2 separate regions of the Homo sapiens genome follow, and region 2 is linked to region 1. Evidence: fine-mapped expression QTL. A gene starts in region 1. The other region holds a variant in brackets. All regions are shown on one strand. Distances are from middle to middle.

Region 1 (11,026 bases):
ACCTTCTCTAAGGCTAAATAAACCTATCCAATTTCTGCCACCTTCCCTCACATGACATGGTATCAGGTTTCCTCACTCTTCTGCTCACACCCACCTGCACCAATTCTAGTTGGTTAATGTTCCTCTTTATTAAAGGGAGCTGGCTAGGGCAGGACACAGGATTCGGTAGGGTCTGGACAGTGCAGAGCAGGATGAGATGTCAAAAATCACTTCCCTTGTCCCCCAGAAGGTAGGGTCTATGAGGGCCTGGACTGTGGCTGATTCAGTCACTGCAGTGTCCCCAGTGCCCCAGCACAGAGGCCGGCACATACAAGCAGCTAGTCAGGAGACATCTGTTGTTTGCAGTTGTTGCTTCAGACACTGAGGTCTACAAATGCAACCCAAGGTTGCCTGATCTTTTCTGGCAGCCACTTCACAGTTGACTCCTATTGAGGTTACTGTTAACAAAAACCTGAGTTTTGCTCACATGTGCTGCTGTTGAAATTTTTCCTCCTCTAGACTTGTGCCATGGATTTTTCTGGACCATTTTAATGTCTAAAATTAGTCACCCTTAAATTTCACCATATGTGGCTGGGCTTGGCAGTTCACATCTGTTATCCTAGCACTTTGAGAGGCCAAGGTGGAAGGATCACTTGAGGCCAGGAGTTCAAGACCAGCCTGGAACATAGTGAGAGCCTGTTTCTACAAAAAGTTTAAAAATATCCAGGTGTGGTGGTTTGCACCTGTAGTCCTAGCTACTGGGGAGGCTGAGGTGGGAGGATTGCCTGAGCCCAGGAGTTCGAGGCTGCAGTGAGCTATGATCATGCCACTGCACTCCAGGCTGGGTGACAAAGCAAGACCTTGTCTCTCTATTAAAAAAAAAAAAAAATCACCATGTGAGATATATGCTTGGAAATGCACAGAATTTCTCTAGACGGATACAGAGGAGGCAGGAAATGGTGGCTGCCTCGAGAGAAGCACACTAGGTAGCTAGGGCACAAGGGTCAGAGAAAGCTCTTTACTTTTTACTATATATCTTTTTGTATTTTTACTTTTGTATTATGTGAGTGTGCTATTTTTTTAAGTGACAAAAAATAATAAACCTACAGAGAAGTCAAGAAGGATTTTTTTTTCTTTTTTCATCTTGATAGAGTCTGCCCATCTCTCCAGTCTGAGCTGTTTTGGGAATCTGAGTCTATTTCAATTTTCCTTTAATCTTTTCTTCTTTCTCACTCCCTACCTCCACCAGGAGTCTTTTTAGACTTTTTTTTCCCCTAAAACTCTCCTGTGAAATGTTAATTCCACAGATATACTGTATATCATTTATGTACTGTACATATATCTGTGCTTTATACATAAAAGGAGTTCTATAAAGTTTACTCCTGCCAGGCGCAGTGGCTAATGCCTGTAATCCCAACACTTTGGGAGGCAGAGCGGGGTGGATCACCTGAGGTCAGGGGTTTGAGACTAGCCTGGCCAACATGGCGAAACCCCAGGTCTACTAAAAATACAAAACTTACCCATGCGTGGTGGCACGCACCTGTAATCCCAGCTACTAGGGAGGCTGAAGCAGGAGAATCACTTGAACCCAGGAGATAGAGGTTGCAGTGAGCCAAGATCATACCACTGCACTCCAGCCTGGCCAACAGAGCGAGACTCTGTCTCAAAAAAAAAAAGAAAAAGAAAAAAAGCTTACTCCTTAGTTAATAAGCATATGACTAAATAAGCATATGACTAAATTTTAAAATTAAGTTAAATGTTAAATTAAAATTTAAAAGTTATTAACTTCTAACTTTATAACTGTATTTGCTGAAAAACATTTTTATGGTTTTTGAGACAGTGTCTCACTATGCTGCCCAGGCTGGTCTTGAACTCCTGGGCTCAAATGACCCTCCTACCTTAGCCTCCAGAGTAGTTGGGATTGCAGGTACATGCCACCACGCCAGATTTTTGCTGAATAACTTTTATGTAACTTACTTAGATAAATAGCAATTTATCAAACTACATGTGCAAATTTGCAAATTATATAACTACATAATGATAACAATGTAATTAAATTTAAAATCCTTCAAACTGTTCTTTTCCGACAAAACACAACTGAAAATATTAAATGAATTTCTTAAAATTTTCAATGATCTTAACTTTTAACTTTTCCTTAATATGAGAAAATAACTTTTAACTTAGTAGCTTAGAGATATTCATTCAGATGTTGTCAATAATTTTGCTTTTTAGCACTTGACATAATTTGATGGGTTGAATATTTTTTGTAGGATTAAATAATAAAATATAATCTATTTTCGTTTAATTCTCCAAGTCCAAGTGAACACAAAAGCACTAAAGATCAAACACAAACAACGTCTGCAAGGCAGCCAATGGCAGCCAATAGGCACACATATTCCCCCGCTGAGGTGGAACAATCGATCAAGAGAAAGCCCTTGGTTAATGAAGTTGTGCAGTATTTGGGATTCCTGCTTTAAAAGGAGAAAGCCCAATCACTTGCCATAGTTTTGTAGCACTGCTGTGGCGTCCATGTTGTGTATTTTTCGTGAACTCAATGTCAGTGCTGCACATGCTATACCCAAGAAAACCCAACCAGAAAAATGAAATACTAAGGAATAATATTTTCTCGGGTGGGGTTAAGCTTTGGAGGGGCACAAACCACTGTATTACCAGATTTTTTTTTTTTTTTTTTTTTGTCCACAGGAACCAATTCTCACCTTGGGATCAATATCACCCCCCTCAACGCCCAACCCATAACGCCCCCCCCAAACATAGTCTATCTTTCGAGCTACTATCTCTTCCAAGCAAACTTTGTAACATGCTTTGAGTATTTTTATACCAGAAACTTGGTCCAGGGAAACCCCATTTCCCCAAGTCCTTAAGGATCCAAAGCCTAGCTTTCGGTAGGTCATTTAATTTCTCTGAACATCAGTTTCCCTATCTGGAAAATAAGATTAATAATGCCTACCTTGTAAGAGTTGTTGTAAAAGTTAAATGTTATGTGTGTAAAGCGCTGAGCCAACATACAGCAAATGTACACGATGTCAAATATTAAGCAAGACACAGATAAAGTGAGATAGGCAGTATGCCAATAATGATCTCGCTCCAGCAAACTGCCATTTTTAGTTCTTTCTAGTGTTTGACTAGAATGAGTAAGTAGGTGAAGGACTTCGGATTATCTCAGATTTTATTTCAAAACTGCAGGAGTGGGAAGTGGAGGACAGACTACTTCAGGTAGTAGAACGACCGGGCTTCCGGTACTTACAAAGGAGTTTCCCTTACAAACGCAGGGGGACGCTCACTGTTTCTCAAAGTATCGTCCTCTGAGACAACACCAGAATCCCTTGAGTCCTGCGTAAGATGTCAGAGTCCTCAGGAGCACCGCCGACTCCAGTGCTCTCTTAACAGTTTGGCACTCCCTGGAGAGGTTTCCTAGCCTGAATGGCAAGTCCATGCCATCTTCCGACCAGTACAGAAGACAAAGGGGCTTTTTAGCCCTCGCCTCTTCCTCCCCAACCCGCAGCCCCTGCGTAAGGGGCAGCCGGGCCTTCGGGAAGCTCCACGCAACCCACAAAGGACCCGGGATCACTGCAGAACCCCCGGAGACCCGGACACGCCTCGGCAGCTCCGAGCCCGGCCTCCCACTCGGGAGAGGCTTTGGCCGGTCCTCACCTGGGCGTCGTCCCTGCCACTCGGCCCATAGTAGCGTCAGGTCGCCGTCAGCCCTCAGGAAGCGCAGCAGCTGCACCAAGAGCAGGAGCAGCGCGCACAGCACCAGCAGCCACAGCAGCAGCTCCCAGTTCATTGCGGCCGCGCACGCCCAGCTCGGGGGGAAGAAGACGGCCCGCACCAGAGTCGCGTCGCTGCCCTGCGGGATCGCAGCGCCACCCCTTCGGCCAGCCCAGAGCCGCACTGCCCCGGCTCCGCCCAGGGAGCAGGCCGGGAGGAGGAGCGGCTCGGGCGCGCCGGGCTCAGCACTCGCGGCCCCACTCGCGGTCCTTGGGCGGCCCGCGCCCTCATGCGGCACACCCGGCGGGGCCGGCAGATTGCTTGAATTCAAGTGTCCGAGACCAGCCTGGGCAACATGAGGAAACCCTGTGTCTACCAAAAATAAATAAATAAAATTCCAGTATTTTTAAAGAAGCTGATTCAAACATAAGCTACATATTATACTACGTTATTTCCTCTCTGTACAGGGACACTATCAACGGCCAGGAGACAGATAGAATCATTCTTGCTTGGCCCCTCTTCTCCATTCCTATTCAGAAAGAACATCCCCTTTTCAAGCTTCAGTATCTTTTCATGAGGTCGAGAAAGTGCTGAAGAAAGACTGTGGCTATCACTCAAGACCCCACAAGCCAAGGCAATGGTCCCTCCATGGGGACAAGGTCCTTTTACAATTAGAGAAAAAAAGACTGAAGCCATGTGCTGTGTTGGCACCTTACAACCTGATTCTGACCACACACAAATTTACTCTGGTGTCTGTTTGGCAACCAAAGCCTAGGTTGGTACCAAATCCTCCCCTTACCCAAGCCATTATTCACATCCTAATGTAAACAGCAAATAAAAACAGAGAATGTAATGAAAACACCAAGGTCTTGCCTACTCTAATACACAAAAGAGTAAAATACTGTTTTTGATTAATTTCCGTTTGAAATGACCTTCAAAACATTTAATTGCTTCCCACTAAATACCTACATGTATTTGAGGCATCAATAGTAGCATCTTTCTTGTTTTCAAGCATTTGAAAGCAAGAGGGTTTTCCATTCACAAGCCTCAGAGGGACCCAGTTAGAGTGCATAGAAACTAGGCCATGTATGAGAACGACCTGTGGCCAAATGGAGAAAGTTCTGGGCGTTGATGCAGTAGAACTTTCATCCTCTTCATTTCCTAGAGTACTTTGTGTGCTCTGATGTCAAAGGCTCTTCCTTGGCTGAAACTAAATATGACTTTAAAACAGTCATGGAAATAAAAGAAGCAGTGACTTCCCTCCCCAGTGTTGTTTTCTTTTTCTAGTCTTGCCTGCCAAACTTTTGTTTTTCTTTAAATGTTTTGAAGAATGTTACTTGCAGTAATCAAATTTCCTTAAATAGCTCTTCCTTCTCTTTTTAAATCCTATTATAAACCCCCTACCTGCCTCCCCACCCTCATCCTTCTCTAAAAAGCTTTTTGGGGTTATCTGGACTCAGAGTCATCTTTCCCTAATCTCACCTCTTTTCACAATTACTTCTGAACTATATCTGAAATTGTTTTTTAATTATTTTCAGGGTTAATATAGTATTGTTCCAATGGAACTTTAGAATCCTTGAAATAAAGTAGCAAATCTGATGCTTCTTTTGAAGAGTCTGGAATACATAGCTTAGTGTTGACATGAGAAGCAATAAGCCCACGTTGATTGAATTCTCCTTTCCTTGAAATTTAAACCTCCTTGATAGAGAGTAGAAGGATAGTTACCAGAGGCTGAGAAGAGTAGTGGGAGGGTTGGGGGGGACGTGGAGATGGTTAACGGATACAAAAAATAGAAAGAATGAATAAGACCTAGTATTTGATAGTGCAATGGGGTGCCTATAGTCAATAATAATTTAGTTGTATGTTTTAAAACAACCAGAAGAGTATAATTGGATTGTTTGTAACATAAAGGATAAATGCTTGAGGGGGTGGATACCCCATTTACCATGATGTGATTATTACACATTGTATGCCTGTATCAAAGTATCTCATGTACTCCATAAATATATACACCTACTGTGTACCCACAAAAATTAAAAATTAAAATTCAATTTTTTAAAACCTCCTTGAAGTTCGGAAGTTAATGTTAAAATGAGAGTTGCTAGCATTTAATAAATCAATCTTCTCTAAGTATTATTAAAATGCTTTGAATAAAGTCCGAAAGTCTTTTCTATAACTGGTAACCTTCATTTTTAATTCCAGATGTAATAGAATGGTACCCTGCCTTCCCTCCTTTTAGTAATGGTCACTTTTGATGGTCTGGGGTCAGGCCCATTCATGGCAGCTAAGGCCCATTCATGGCAGCTAAGGCCCATTCAGGTCAGCTAAGATGAAGGCAGTTGTGCGTAAGCAATTGCCATCTTCCATAACAAAAGCATTATACAAAAATAACTTTAAAAATCCAGATCCTCCAAGATCGGCAGTCCCTAGGCGGGGGAAAAAAAGAGTGAGTGGAAACTGTGAGTGGAAACAGGGACTGAGGAATCTAGGGAGGGAATATTCTTCCTCAAGAACAATAAGGGGTTTGTGGTTTTTGATTGAGGATGTTTTCACATCCCTTAGATGCTTTTGGAAATGTGTTGGATGAACAGTGGCCATAGTGCCAGCTAGCCAGGGTGTCATCAGAGTGCTAACGATCTGGGCACTATGTAAAGACATACCCAACAAAGAATTGCCCTGCCCCAAAAGCTCACAGCACCCTTACTCAGAAATCCTGCAACCTGGCCACGGTGGAGAGGAGCTCTGCAATCTATTAGCAGCCTCCCTCCACAAGCTCTGGCTTACACCTGCCTGGCTGTACCCCAGCTACAAGCGTTCAGGTCATGGTCTAGTTTTCTGATATTCTTCAGGCAGACAAGGTCTTACCTAGAGTCTTATTTATAAGAAAATATAACTTACTTTCTTACCTTTAGTAATCTCATGGGATCCCTCAATAGGAATATCTCACTGCACTGTTCACCACATGCAGTTCCCCATATCAGTGCATTGATATTTTGTTTAGATTAGCCAATTTCCACAGTATCTTGGGTCTCTTAAACATAAGCAGTTTATAGCTCTCATTCTCTCTCCCTTAAATGCTCTGTTTCAAACTTCCCTTTATATATCTTGTCCATGATTTAGTAGTGGTGGTTGTTATTCTAATCTAGAACTTCAAACACTCATGCACACATGAGTACATGCAAAGCTGGTGAAATTTGAACGAGGTCTGTGGATTTTGCCAATACCAATTCCCTGGTTCTGTTATTGTTCTAAAATTATGTAAAATTTACTAGTGGGGAGAACGGGGTACAGAGTACACGTCTGTTCCATCTTTGCAACTTCCTGTGAATCTATAATCATTTTAAAGTAAAAAGTTAAAAAAATTAGGTTAAATTTCTTAAAATATGCAAATATTTTCTTAAAATTCTAAAACTGATCAATGCTTTTTCCTCTCCTTCTCTTTTTTCTCCCCTCTCCAGCCAGGACCAGCCTTGGAGATAAGCAGAGTGAACAGAAATTTATGGTCTCAGATTTAAGAAAAACAAAATTCTTTCTTGCTTCTTAAATCATACTCCATCCCATTGGCTTGCAAACATGCTGACACTCCTCATAATTTCACTCTTCATAAACCAAAGCATAAGGTCAGAGGAGAACTTGACATATTAGAACACTTAGGCATTGAAAGTGGTTAGTCTAACTAACCCATTGAAGTTTTGGAGAACCTGGGACTCAAATTTTGGAAGATGTGACAGATGATATGTTAACATACATTGCACCGAGGCTGAAGTGGGAGGATTGCTTGAGACTGCCTGGAAGGCAGAAGTTGCAGTGAGCCGAGACTGATGGTGTCACTGCACTCCAGCCTGGGCAACAGAGCAAGACCCTGTCTTAAAAAAACAAAACAAACAAACAAAAGAAACCAAAAAAAAAAAAAAAAAAAAAAAAAAAACCATTGCACCAAGTAACAGTCAACTTTTCAGCAGAGGTGAGTAGAGTTAATCAGTTAAGGCTTTCTGGAATACCAGCCCACCTCAAGGCCTTGTACATACTGTTCTCTCCACATAGAGGGATGGCCAGAAATCCCCCAGATGGATCCAACAATGCTCACCTCCTGTGTGCAAACCACCATGTATTTCCCTCCCAGGTTGTATCAGGGTTGATCACTGTAACCAGCAGAATGCTGCAGAAATGATGAGTGTGTGACTCCCAAGGATAGGTCACAGAAGCTATTGCAGCTTCTACCTCTTGCTCTCTCTTGTTTATACCTTTACTAAAGTATAATTCGAGTACAAGAAACTGCACATATTTAAGGTATACAACTTGATGAGTTTGTCAAATATATACACCTGTGAAACCATCACCACAATCAAGGTAAACATTTCAATCACCCCCAAAAGGGGTGACCCTTTGAAATCCACCCATCCTCCACCCCTTCCCTAGGCAGCCACTGATCTATTCTCTGTCACTGTATGGAAACACCTTACCTGTTTCCTCTGTGGGATGTAAAGTCCCATTTCTGGATCCTTTCAGGTCCCTGTCTAATGTCTATTCTCTTTGCCTTGCCCTTACTTTTGTTCAGATCAACTTTAGCCTTAGCAGGGAATTTGGTTTTGTAATTCCGAACCCTAAGCAGTCTTGGATTGCTGTCTGCTGAGATGGGGCATGAGAGCAGTGAGGAGCGTGATCTCTTTTAACAAAGCCGTATGCTGTTCCCAGCTATCTAAGACCAAGGCTTATCTCTTTCTAGTAGGATCTTGACAGGAGCCACAAGAAGTAACCAAGACAACAAGAGTTAACCTGTCCATATGCTTTCTAATTGCCAGGCCTATTCTAAGTGCTTTATATATATTAAATCCCTTAATCTTCACAATAATCCAGTTAATTAGGTACTATTTTAATTCCCATTTCCCTGATGAGGAAGCTTAATTGTGATTAAGTAACTTGCCCTAGGTCACACAGCTAGGAGACAGGGTCTTTGAACCTAGGTAGTCTAATTTCAGTCTTTGCTCTTGAACCACCATATAATACTGCCTCTCACACCAGAGCAGCCTAATTTTGTTCTGCTGGATTCCCTGAAGCTTCTACCTTAGTATGTACAGGTCTGAATCCCAAAGAAACTACAATAACATCTTAATGAGCTGCTTCATTACCATATCATAAAGACTGCCCACTTCCCACCCAGGGATGGAGGGAGATGGAGAGAGCCTCACTGCCTCCTACTCCACCTTGACACAGTAGTTCACATTTTAGGATATTTCATTTCTAGCACTCTACTTCTGGGTACCAATGTCTCAATCAGTCGGTACTCTCAATCGCAAATGGCAGAGACCCACTAAAATTAGCTTACGAGAAATGTTAAGGAATGTATTTGTGCCCCCATAGGTAAATCCCCTACCCTAAGGATGTGGCCTGCCTCTGCAACCAACCTGAGGTCCAGGTGAAAACCACTAACCTGTGGGCCAGGAGCCCAAGCACAGCACTGAGGCCTGTTACTTGGAGACAGAAGTGCTCAGGCAGAGTCCAGGGTCATTACCTTCATTTGGTAAGAATTTTGATGTTGATTTCTAGTGTCTAGAGACCTCAATATCCAAAATAAACATTAATATATTAATTTTCTAGGGCCGCCATAACAAAATATCACAGACTGGATGGCTTAAACAACAGAAATTTATTTTCTCACAGTGCTGGAGTCTAGAAGTTCAAGGTCAAGGTGCTGACAGGGCTGGTTTCCTCTGAGGTCCCCCTCCTTGACTTGAAGACCACCCCCTCTCCTTGTCTCATACCTCAGAAAAAGAAAGAGAATTCAAAAGTTACAGAAAGGCAAAAATAAGATCAATAGTCAGACAGCCCACTGCAGCACCTCCAGCCTGGTAGTTAAAAATCAACCCCTGACCTAACTGCTTGTATTATCCATAGATTCCAGGCATTGTGTGAAGAAGCATTGTGAAATTTTCTGTTCTGTTCTGTTCTGCTCTGTCTTGATTACCGGTGCATGCAGCCCAAGTCCCATACCCCATGCTTGCTCAATCGATCACAACCCTTTCACGTAGACCACCTTAGAGTTGTAAGCCCTTAAAGGGGGCAGGAATTTCTCTCCCAGGGAGCTCGGCTTTTGAGATGCAAGTCTGCAGAAGCTCCCAGCTGAATAAAGCTCCTTCCTTCTTTAACCCGGTATCTAAGGAGTTTTGTCTGTGGCTCGTCCTGCTATAGCAGATGGTCGTCTTCTTCCTGTCTTCACATAGTCTTTTCTCTGTGTGCATCTGTGTCCTAATCTCCTCTTCTTATAAGGACATCATCAATCATATTGGATCAGGGCCCACTGACATGACCTCGTTTTACCTTAACCACCTCTTTAACAAGCTCATCCCCAAATACAGTCTCATTCTGAGGTACTAGGAGTTAAAACTTCAACATATTAATTTCAGGAGAACACAATTCAGACCATCACAATAAACAAAAAATAAAGCTGAATTTATTGCTTAGGTATATAAGGGAGAGCTATGCTGACCAGGCCCAGTCTCTCTAAGCAGATCAGGGAACTGATCTTAATACAGCTCTGCAGAAGCATGGAGTTTGGTGACTGGCAGAGTAGGTTGATGTCAGCTGAAGAACTGTAGTTACTTGAGTGAGACTTTAGTAGATTGGCACTCAGTGGTGTGTTCATTGAAGCAGTCCATTCCCAGGTGGTTTGCTTTCACAAGCAAGGGGTTTTCGCTGCTGGGTTGGCTTCCAGAATCATGCTTGCAGAGGTGAGTTGTTGACGGATTAAGTAGATTTAAAATCATTTCTGGTGGTTGATCTTGTATCCTGGCTGTAAATTTTTCCTAGGAGTGTGGGAACTTTTTAAAGTTTTCACTAGTGTCAAAATAATACTTAAGTTGGGCGTGGTGGCTCACACCTCTAATCCCAGCACTTTGGGAAGCAGAGGTGGGAGGATTGCTTGAGCTCATAAGTTTGAGACCAGCCTGGACAACGTAGCAAGATCTCATTTTTATAAAAAAATCAAAAAAATTAGCCAGGCATGGTAGCACACACCTGTAGTCCCAGCTACTCTGGAGGCTGAGGCAGGAGGATCACATGAGCCCAGGAGGCTGTGGTGAGCCATGATTGTGCCACTGCACTCCAGCCTGGGAAACAGAGCAAGAGCCTGTCTCAAAAAATAATACTTCAGAAAGAGTTAGTTATTGCAAGTAGATAGCTTACTTATATACATGAAAGAGAAGATTCAAGGAACAAAGGCAAAGCATTATTTAAAAGGGTGAAGAGAGAGACAAAAGTACAAGCAGCCAGGGAACAATACGTCTTGTTTGCACAATTTGTGGATAAATTCATTACCTGG
Region 2 (11,026 bases), 91 kb before region 1:
CACCTGACACCTCGTTTACAGCAAGATGTTAATGTCAGGTTAGAGTTGTGACGTGCAACATGGAAACAGACTTGAATTCTGGGAGCTATATTTTTAGTTTCATAAAAAAGCAAAGCAAAACAAAACAACTGGGATTGAGAGAGTTCTAGTTTATCGTTGCTTAGATAGCACTCCCTATACCTGGCTATGGGCCAAGAAGATTTATTCTGAACAAAGAGAAAAGTGGGATTAGAACACCGGAGGTCTTTGGTCCCATTAAGAATCATACCCCACAAATAAATAGAGATAGCTGGATCATATAACTGTGCTCTTCTCAATTGACGTTAAAAATGCCACAAATAATTTAACATTTAAACACATTTTTTTTCCTGTAACTTTCACAGAACTTCTTGGCTGTATCTTTAACCTACTAATCAAAAGAATTTCCTCAAGTTCACATTTATAGATGTTTTTAATGAACATAATTTTCTTCTGTATTCAATAAACATGTAAAGAATATTGATGACTATGGAAAACACCAAAGTAATAATTGCTGTGGTTAAGAATCATCTATGGATACTAAAATTAGTAGATGACAGTATAAACAGGGTATTTGCATGGTCTCTAAGAATTTCCCTACAAGATACTTTTTAATTACAAATAGAAAAAAATATTAACTGTGCAGTGGAAAAAACTGATAAACACCTTAACCAAGAGATCAAATTTAATATCACCAAAAAATAAGATATATCAATATCCTGATATGATGCACTGATAAGGGCACAAAATCATTCTGTAGTATTCCTGCCAAAAATACCACATGATCATGAGAATGAGAATGATCTGATCATGAGAAAATATCAGACAAACCCAAACTAAGGGACATTCCACAATATAATCGGCCAATAAGTCTGGCCAAAAGGAGTCTAAAAAGATCAAGGGCATTGCATGATAAGGACTGAGGAAGTCATATTGGAGGAATCTAAGAAACATGATAACTAAGTATAATATACAAGATCTTGGATTGGATCTTGAACCAAAAAAAGGGCATTAGTGGGAAAACTGTTGAAATTCAAATAAAGTCCATAGATTAGTTAACAGTATAACTGTTAATTGCTAAGTTTCAATCATTGCTATATAAAATGTTAACATTAGGAAAAGCTGGGTGAGGAAATCACCATATTTAAAACTTTTCTGCATGTTCAAAATTATTTCTTTAAAAACAAGAATTTAAATTTTGAAATATAAATTATTGACAATGATCCTGATTCAAGGGTTATTTTACTGGTGTAGAAGCAAAAGTATAAGGGAGTGAGCCCAACCACCATTTTATTTCACACATTCTTCACAAATTCTGGAAAGTCTTCAGAATCTTCCATATTTTATTTTGATATCACAATCTAAAAGTAATATAAATTAGTTTACTTTAAAAATATACATTCCTTTTATAAGTAAGAATTTAAACTCATTTTGAAGCCATCATATCTTGAAAATAACTAAGTGGGAATTTTTGTAAGAAAACCACTTTATTCAGGCAATTAGAATGAGTGTAACAATACGATAAAAACTGTATAATTATTAAATAAAATATGTATTATATTAGGATCATTTTTGTTCCAAATTTTTACTAGTTGAACTAAATTTTTATTAGTTGAACTAAAAATTTACAAATTAGTCCCAAAACACAAAATAAACTGTTTTATCTAGAAAGATGGTAAATTACTTAGAGATAGTCAAAAGAAGTAGAAATTGTGGAGGAGACAGCCAATTGCCTCCCGGGCCTGTTCTGTCATTCTCCCTTAGTAAAAGAACCCTGATTATTAGCTAGGAATAGTGCTTCTCTTGCAGTCAAATGTGGCCCTTTGTTTTGGCAAATGACTTATATGTGGTAGTGTGGTATGGAAACTTACTGGAAGTCTTCTTAAAAAGGAAAGGAAGAAAAATTTCCCTTCCATTCATACTGTAGCTTGGGAAAAGATTATGATGGAGGAAGTCTGGCTGGACCAGGAGGAAAAAGACCTTAAAGATGACAGCATAATAAATGGGACTGTCCCACTAGCCCATAGAACTGCCATTCTGACCCTCGAATAATTAACTTATACGGCAAGAAGTAAGTTTATATCGGTTAAACCACTGTTATTATGGTTTCTCTGTTACAAGAAGTACAACCTAATCCTAACTGATACAGGAATGTTCCCAGAAAAGAGATGTGAAGGACTTTTGTACTAAAATTATAGCAGAAAGATACAACTTAACGAGAAATGAAAAAGCAAAGAACAAAAGTAGATTTTATGGAAGAGCATAAATGGGATAATGGCAAAATGAAAGCAGCAATTGGTTCTGAATGAGTCATAAAAGAAAGTCACTGAAAGTGGTTTAATGTCAGTATAAAAAGGAGGTCATGAAAGAATAAACTCTAGAATTTGAAGCTGTTAAATACATTAAGATGAAAAAGAAATCATACTTAAATTCACCAATTATTAGCATCTTAGAGAAAATAATTGTACCTCAAAATATCTTGGCTAAAAATTATTAGCGGAGAGTATCACTCAGTGGCTTTTGTTGCAAGCAAAAGAACATTACTCTGGATATAGCTCATAGGATAGTTCACAGAACAGAAAGGCTGAAAAACCAGGCTCATAGAATGAGAACAAGCGGAGTATAGTGGTCAATACCCCAGACAGTATCATGTCACAGGATCACCTTAATTATGGTGCCAGTGCCATGCTGCTGCCACAGGCATGGGTGCCACTAGATGAGTGCAATAAGGCCTTGATGTTTCTGTTGCCATCAAAATGAATTCTAAATATTCCTGCTTCTTTGCTTCCCATGTTCTACACTGAAAGGCCCAGGAAGAAGATAGCTAAACTTAGGTTGCCCGCCACAAACTTTAGTTATTAAAGAAAAGCAGGGGGTGGCTGGAAAGATGGCCAAATAGGAACAGCTCCAGTCTGTAGCTCCCAGCAAGATCAACACAGAAGGTGGGTGATTACTGCATTTCCAACTGAGGTACCCGGCTCATCTCATTGGGACTGGTTAGACAGTGTGTGCAGCCCATGGAAGGCAAGCAGAAGCAGGTGGGGCACTGCCTCACCAGGGAAGCGCAGGGGTCAGGGAACTCCCTCCCCTAGCCAAGGGAAGCCTTGAGGGACCGTGCCTTGAGGAACACTGCATTCCAGCCCAGATACAGGCCTCTCTCACAGTCTTTGCAACCTTCAGACCAGCAGATTCCCTTGGGTGCCTACACCACCAGGGCCCTGGGTTTCAAACACAAAACTGGGAGGCCGTTTGGGCAGACACCTAGCTAGCTGCAGGAGTTATTTTTTCATACCCCAGTGGTGCCTGGAATGAGAGCGACACAGAACCGTTCACTTCCCTGAAAACGGGGCTGAAGCCAGGGAGCCAAGTGATCTAGCTCAGTGGATTCCACCCCGATGAAGCCCAGCAAGTTAAGATCCACTGGCTTGAAATTCTCGCTGCCAGCACAGCAATCTGAAGTCAACCTGGGACACTCAAGCTTGGTGGGGAGAGTGGTGTACACATTACTGAGGACTGAGTAGGTGGTTTTTCCCTCACGGTGTAAACAAAACTGTCAGAAAGTCAAAACTGCCAAAGCTCGGCAAAGCCACTGTAGCCAGACTGCCTCCTCTCTGGGCAGGGCATCTCTGAAAGAAAGGCAGCAGCCCCAGTCAGAGGCTTATAGATAAAACTCCCATCTCCCTGGGACAGAGTACCTGGGGGAAGGGGCAATGGTGGGCGCAGCTTCAGCAGACTTAAACATTCCTGCCTGCTGGCTCTGAAGAGAGCAGCAGATCTCCCAGGACAGTGCTCAAGCTCTGCTAAGGGACAGACTGCCTCCTCAAGTGGGTCCCTGACCCCTGTGCTTCCTGACTGGGAGACACTTCCCAGCAGGGGTAGACAGACACCCCATATAGGAGAGCTCTGGCTGGCATCTGGCGGGTGCCCCTCTGGGATAAAGCCTCCAGAGGAAGGAACAGGCAGCAATCTTTGCTGTTCTGCAGCCTCCGCTGGTGATACCCAGGCAAACAGGGTCTGCAGTGGACCTCCAGCAAACTCCAGCAGACCTACAGCAGAGCGGTGTGGCTGTTAGAAGGAAAACAAACAAACAGGAATAGCATCATCATCAACAAAAAGAAACTCCCTCTGAAGGTAACCAACATCAAAGACCAAAGGTAGATAAAGACCAAAGGTAAATAAATTCACAAAGATGAGGAAAAACCAGCACAAAAAGGCTGAAAATTCCCAAAACCAGAACACTTTTCCTCTAAAGGATCACAACTCCTTGCCAGCAAGGGAACAAAACTGGACAGAGAATGAGTCTGAGGAATTGATAGAAGTAGGCTTCAGAAGGTGGGTAATAACAAACTCCTCTGAGCTAAAGGAGCATATTCTAACCCAATGCAGGGAAGCTAAAAACCCTGAAAAAAGGTTAGAGGAATTGCTAACTAGAATAACCGTTTAGAGAAGAACATAAATGACCTGATGGAGCTGAAAAACACAGCACAAGAACTTTGTGAAGCATACACAAGTATCAATAGCTGAATTGTTCAAGCGGGAGAAAAGATATCAGAGATTGAAGATCAACTTATGAAATCAAGCATGAAGACAAGATTAGAGGAAAAAGAATAAAAAGGAATGAACAAAGCCTCCAAGAAATATGGGACTATGTGAAAAGACTAAACCTACATTTGACTGGTGTACATGAAAGTGATGGGGAGAATGGAACCAAGTTAGAAAACACCCTTCAGGATATTATCCAGGAGAACTTCCCCAACCTAGCAAGACAGGTCAACATTCAAATTCAGGAAATACAGAGAACACCACAAAGAAAAGCAGCCCCAAGACACATAATCTTCAGATTCACCAAGGTTGAAATGAAAGAAAAAATGTTAAGGGAAGCCAGAGAGAAAGGTCAGGTCGCCCACAAAGGGAAGCCGATCAGACTAACAGCAGATCTGTCTGCAGAAACCCTACAAGGGGTTAGGGGGGCAATATTCAACATCCTTAAAGAAAAGAATTTTCAACCCAGAATTTCAGATTCAGCCACACTAAGCTTCATAAGCAAAGGAGAAATAAAATGCTTTAGAGACAAGCAAATGCTGAGAGATTTTTTAAAATTTTTTTATTTTTATTTATTATTATTATACTTTAACTTCTAGGGTACATGTGCACAACATGCATGTTTGTTACATATGTATACATCTGCCATGTTGGTGTGCTGCACCCGTTAACTCGTCATTTACATTAGATATATCTCCTAATGTTATATCCTCCCCCTTCTCCCACCCCACAACAGGCCCCTGTGTGTGATGTTCCCCATCCTGTGTCCAAGTGTTCTCATTGTTCTTCCCACCTATGAGTCAGAACATGCGGTGTTTGGTTTTCTGTCCCTGTAATAGTTTGCTCAGAATGATGGTTTCCAGCTTCATCCATGTCCCTACAAAGGACATGAACTCATCATTTTTTATGGCTGCATAGTATTCCATGGTATATATATG[C/A]CACATTTTCTTAATCCAGTCTATCATTGATGGACATTTGGGTTGGTTCCAAGTCTTTGCTATTGTGAATTGTGCTGCAATAAACACACGTGTGCATGTGTCTTTATAGGAGCATGATTTATAATCCTTTGGGTATATACCTAGTAATGGGATGGCTTGATCAAATGGTATTTCTACTTCTAGATCCTTGAGGAATCGCCACACTGTCTTCCACAATGGTTGAACTAGTTTACAGTCCCACCAACAGTGTAAAAGTGTTCCTATTTCTCCACATTCTCTCCGGCACCTGTTGTTTCCTGACTTTTTAATGATCACCATTCTAACTGGTGTGAGATGGCATCTCATTGTGGTTTTGATTTGCATTTCTCTGATGGCCAGTGATGATGAGCATTTTTTCATGTGTCTGTTGGCTGCATAAATGTCTTCTTTTGAGAAGTGTCTGTTCATATCCTTCACCCAATTTTTGATGGAGTTGTTTGATTTTTTCTTGTAAGTTTAAGTTATTTGTAGATTCTGGATATTAGCCCTTTGTCAGATTTGTACAAATTTTCTCCCATTCTGTAGGTTGCCTGTTCACTCTGATGGTGGTTTCTTTTGCTGTGCAGAAGCTCTTCAGTTTAATTAGATCCCATTTGTCAATTTTGGCTTTTGTTGCCATTGCTTTTGGTGTTTTAGACATGAAGTCCCTGCCCATGCCTATGTCCTGAATGGTATTGCCTAGGTTTTCTTCTAGGGTTTTTATGGTTTTAGGTCTAACATTTAAGTCTTTAATCCATCTTGAATTAATTTTTGTATAAGGTGTAAGGAAGGGATCCAGTTTCAGCTTTCTACATATGGCTAGTCAGTTTTCCCAGCACCATTTATTAAATAGGGAATCCTTTCCCCATTGCTTGTTTTTGTCAGGTTTGTCAAAGATCAGATGGTTGTAGATGTGTGATATTATTTCCAGGGGCTCTGTTCTGTTCCATTGGTCTATATCTCTGTTTTGGTACCAGTACCATGCTGTTTTGGTTACTGTAGCCTTGCAGTATAGTTTGAAGTCAGGTAGTGTGATGCCTCCAGCTTTGTTCTTTTGGCTTAGGACTGTCTTGGCAATGCGAGCTCTTTTTTGGTTCCATATGAACTTTAAAGTAGTTTTTTCCAATTCTGTGAAGAAAGTAATTGGTAGCTTGATGGGGATGGCATTGAATCTATAAATTACCTTGGGCAGTATGGCCATTTTCACGATATTGATTCTTCCTATCCATGAGCATGGCATGTTCTTCTATTTGTTTGTGTCCTCTTGTATTTCACTGAGCAGTGGTTTGTAGTTCTCCTTGAAGAGGTCCTTCACATCCCTTGTAAGTTGGATTCCTAGGTATTTTATTCTCTTTGAAGAAATTGTGAATGGGAGTTCACTCATGATTTGGCTGTTTGTCTGTTATTGGTGCATTTATCCTTTGATAAAATTCAACACCCCTTCATGCTAAAAGCTCTCAATAAACTAGGTATTGATGGAACGTATCTCAAAATAATAAGAGCTATTTATAACAAACCCACAGCCAATATCATACTGAATGGGAAAGAGCTGGAAGCATTCCCTTTGAAAACCAGCACAAGACAAGGATGCCATCTCTCACCACTCCTATTCAATATAGTATTGGAAGTTCTGGCCAGGACAATCAGGCAAGAGAAAGAAATAAAGGGTATTCAGATAGAAAGAGAGGAAGTCAAATTGTCTCTGGTTGCAGATGACATGATTGTATATTTAGAAAACCCAATCAACAGCCCAAAATGTCCTTAAGCTGATAAGCAACTTCAGCAAAGTCTCAGGATACAAAATCAATGTGCAAAAATCACAAGCATTCCTATACACCAATAATAGACAAACAGGGAGCCAAATCATGAGTGAATTCCCATTCACAATTGCTACAAAGAGAATAAAATACCTAGGAATACAACTTACAAGGGATATGAAGAACCTCTTCAAAGAGAACTACAAACCACTGCTCAAGGAAATAAGAGAGGACACAAACAAATGGAAAAACATTCCATGTTCATGGATAGGAAGAATCAATACCGTGAAAATGGCCATACTGCCCAAAATAATTTGTAGATTCAATGCTATCCCTATCAAGCTACCATTGACTTTCTTCACAGAATTATAAAATCTACTTTAAACTTAATATGGAACCAAAAAAGAGCCTGTATAGCCAAGACAATCCTACGCAAAAAGAAGAAAGCTGGAGGCATCACGCTATCTGACTTCAAACTATACTACAAGGCTACAGTAACCAAAACAGCATGGTACTGGTACCAAAACGGAGATATAGACCAATGGAACAGAACAGAGTCCTCAGAAATAACTTCACACATCTACAACCATCTGATCTTTGACAAACTGGACAAAAACAAGCAATGGGGAAAAGGACTCCCTATTTAATAAATAGTGTTGGGAAAACTGGCTAGCCATATGCAGGAAACTAAAAGTAGACCCCTTCCTTAAACCTTATACAAAAATTAACTCAAGACGGATTAAAGACTTAAACGTAGGACCTAAAACCATAAAAATCCTAGAAGAAACCCTAGGCAATACCATTCAGGGCATAGGCATGGGCAAAGACTTCATGACTAAAAAACCAAAAGCAATGGCAGCAAAAGCCAAAATTGACTACTGGGATCTAATTAAACTAAAGAGTTTCTGCACAGCAAGAGAAACTATCATCAGCGTGAACAGGCAACCTACAGAATGGGAGAAAATTTTTGTAATCTATCCATTGGACAAAGGGCTAATATCCAGAATCTACAAGGAACTTACACAAATTTACAAAAAAAAAAACAACCCCATCAGAAAGTGGGTGAAGGATATGAACAGACACTTCTCAAAAGAAGACATTTATGCAGTCAACAAACATATGAAAAAAAGTTCATCATCACTGATCATTAGAGAAATGCAAATCAAAGCCACAATGAGATACCATCTCATGCCAGTTAGAATGGTGATCATTAAAAAGTCAGGAAATAACAGATGCTGGAGAGGATGTGGAAAAATAAGAATGCTTTTACACTGTTGGTGGGAGTGTAAATTAGTTCAACCATTGTGGAAGACAGTGTGGCAATTCTTCAAGGATCTAGAACCAGAAATACCATTTGACCCAGCAATCCCATTACTGGGTATATTCCCAAAGGATTATAAATAATTCTATTATAAAGACATATGCACATATTGCGGCACTGTTCACAATAGCAAAGACTTGGAACCAACCCAAATGTCCATCACTGACAGACTTGATAAAGAAAATGTGGCACAAATACACCATGGAATACTATGCAGCCTTTAAAAAGGATGAGTTCATGTCCTTTGCAGAGACACAGATGAAACTGGAAACCATCATTCTCAGCAAACTTAAACAGGAACAGAAAACCAAACACCATATTTTCTCACTCGTAAGCAGGAGCTGAAAAATAAGAACACATGGACACAGGGAGGGAAACATCACACACTGGGGCCTGTTGTGGGGTGGGGGGCAAGTGGAGGGATAGCATTAGGAGAAATATCTAATGTAGATGATGGGTTGATGGATGCAGCAAACCACCATGGCACATGTATACCTATGTTACAAACCTGCACCAGAACTACAGTATATTAAAAAATATAACAATAATAATACCTTCACAGCAAAAAAATAATTAAATAAAAGCACATGTATTTTTTAACATCTGTGATGGGGGATGTGGCCTGCCTTCCCACTAAAGCTCTCACAGTGGAAAATTCCAGAAAGGACAGGGATTCAAATGCTGCACAGCCAAAAAGAGACAAACATGCAGTACATCAAATGATTTTAAATGGACAGAAACATTGGTTTGTAATGTACCTAGAATTTTTTAAAAAGTTGCTTCACTATAAGGTGGGGAAACATTGGTATAATAGACTATGGGAATTGTTCTTCTTTTCTGCCTAATTTTCCCACCCCCCTTTCTTCAGAATCCTTTGGGAAATATCTCCTCTATGCATTAGTGCTGGGGCTGCTAATCATAGGATTATGCACACAGAACCTGAAATTGAGATATGGACATTGGTAGAGAGTTATTTGGTTTATTTCCTACATTACAATTGCTTAACTGGGAGATTTGAGTTTGTCTGGCAGCCATTTGTCTGCCACTAGGGGAGACTCTAAAAGAATAAAGCAATGCAAACAAAGAGCTGCAGAGAGAGTCTTCACAGCAGTATTTGAGTCTCCAGATGCACTCTTGCCATAAGATGCACTCTTGCACTTCCCAATTACATGAACCAATAAATCCTTTTTGGAGGAGTTGAATTTCTGTCACTTGCAACCAAGTATTCTGACTTTGTGCAATCATAAGATCTAGGAGTTAATAAGGTCAGTATCATTTGAGTCCCAAAATTACAAATATTTGAAGAAATACAGTTCAAGATAAGAGTGGGATAGGAAAGATATTTGAAAAACAATTCATAATGTAGATTATTTTTAAAAGCTAAGACAATGCAACCTCTCTTAGAATCAAAGGAACAATGGCTTGAGAAGAGAGCTGTGAAGTTAACAATTCCTTGAGAATATAAAAAACATCAAAAGCATGAGTAGAACACATAGCTGTAAACTATACCACAGAAAATTCATGTTTAAGAATTTCCTTTACCACTAAAGAACTTATCCATGTAACAAAACTACCTTTACCCCCAAAACTATTGAAATAAATTTTTTAAATTAAAAAATATAGGAATTTCCTAATAGAGAAGAAATAATCAAATGTTTCATTATTTTTTAAAAGATTAGAATCTAGCCTGCTTAATACAAAGCCTAAATAATACTGTAATGAAAGTCAAAGGATCCATTCGAGACAGATCTTTCACTACGTATCTATATAATCAATTTATCTGAACCTGTGGTGTCTTACCTCTAAAGCAAGTGTGGTGGTTAATACTGTCAACTTAATTGGATTGAAGGATGCAAAGTACTGTTCTTGGGTGTGTCCATGAGGGTGTTGCCAAAGGATACTAACGTTTGAATCGGTGGACTGGGAGAGGCAGACTCACCCTCAATCTGGGTAGCCACCATCTAATAAGCTGCCAGCGTGGCTACACTGGTGGAGTCTTCCTGCCTTTATCTCTCTCCCATGCTGGATGCTTCCTGCCCTCAAACATCAGACTCCAAGTTCTTCAGCTTTTGGACTCTTGGACTTACACCAGTGGTTTGCCAGGGGCTCTAGGGCATTTGGCCACAGACTGAAGGCTGCACTGTTGGCTTCCCTACTTTTGAGGTTTTGGGACTTGGACTAGCTTCCTTGCTCCTCAGCTTGCAGATGGCCTACTGTGGGACTCCACCTTGTGATCTTGTGAGTCAATACTCCTTAATAAACTCTGCTTTAGATATACATCTACCCTATTAGTCCTGGCCCTCTAGAGAACTCTAATACAGCAAGCATCTCTTTCACTTCTAAAATTGTGACAATATTCAAAGTTCATTTCAGTCTAACAATTACATTTTCTGCTACTATCTACAGTCATGAGCTTAGACAAAAAAAGGCAG

What was found.
Region 2: its variant is fine-mapped to the expression of DHRS7 in whole blood (INTERVAL, PIP above 0.99).

What each region holds. Positions count from the first base shown.
Region 1 is chr14:60,161,526-60,172,551 of GRCh38, forward strand. DHRS7 (dehydrogenase/reductase 7) reads right to left here and starts at 3,873. Exons shown (of 7, transcript NM_016029.4): 1 at 3,652-3,873. The coding sequence starts at 3,784. RefSeq lists enhancers at 3,337-3,396, 3,587-3,636 and a silencer at 3,837-4,106.
Region 2 is chr14:60,070,293-60,081,318 of GRCh38, forward strand. The region is part of intron 1 of PCNX4-DT (PCNX4 divergent transcript); the gene reads right to left. Among named protein-coding and RNA genes, the nearest start is that of PCNX4-DT, 16 kb to the right of the region's middle. The variant C/A (reference allele first, on the strand shown) is at 5,499.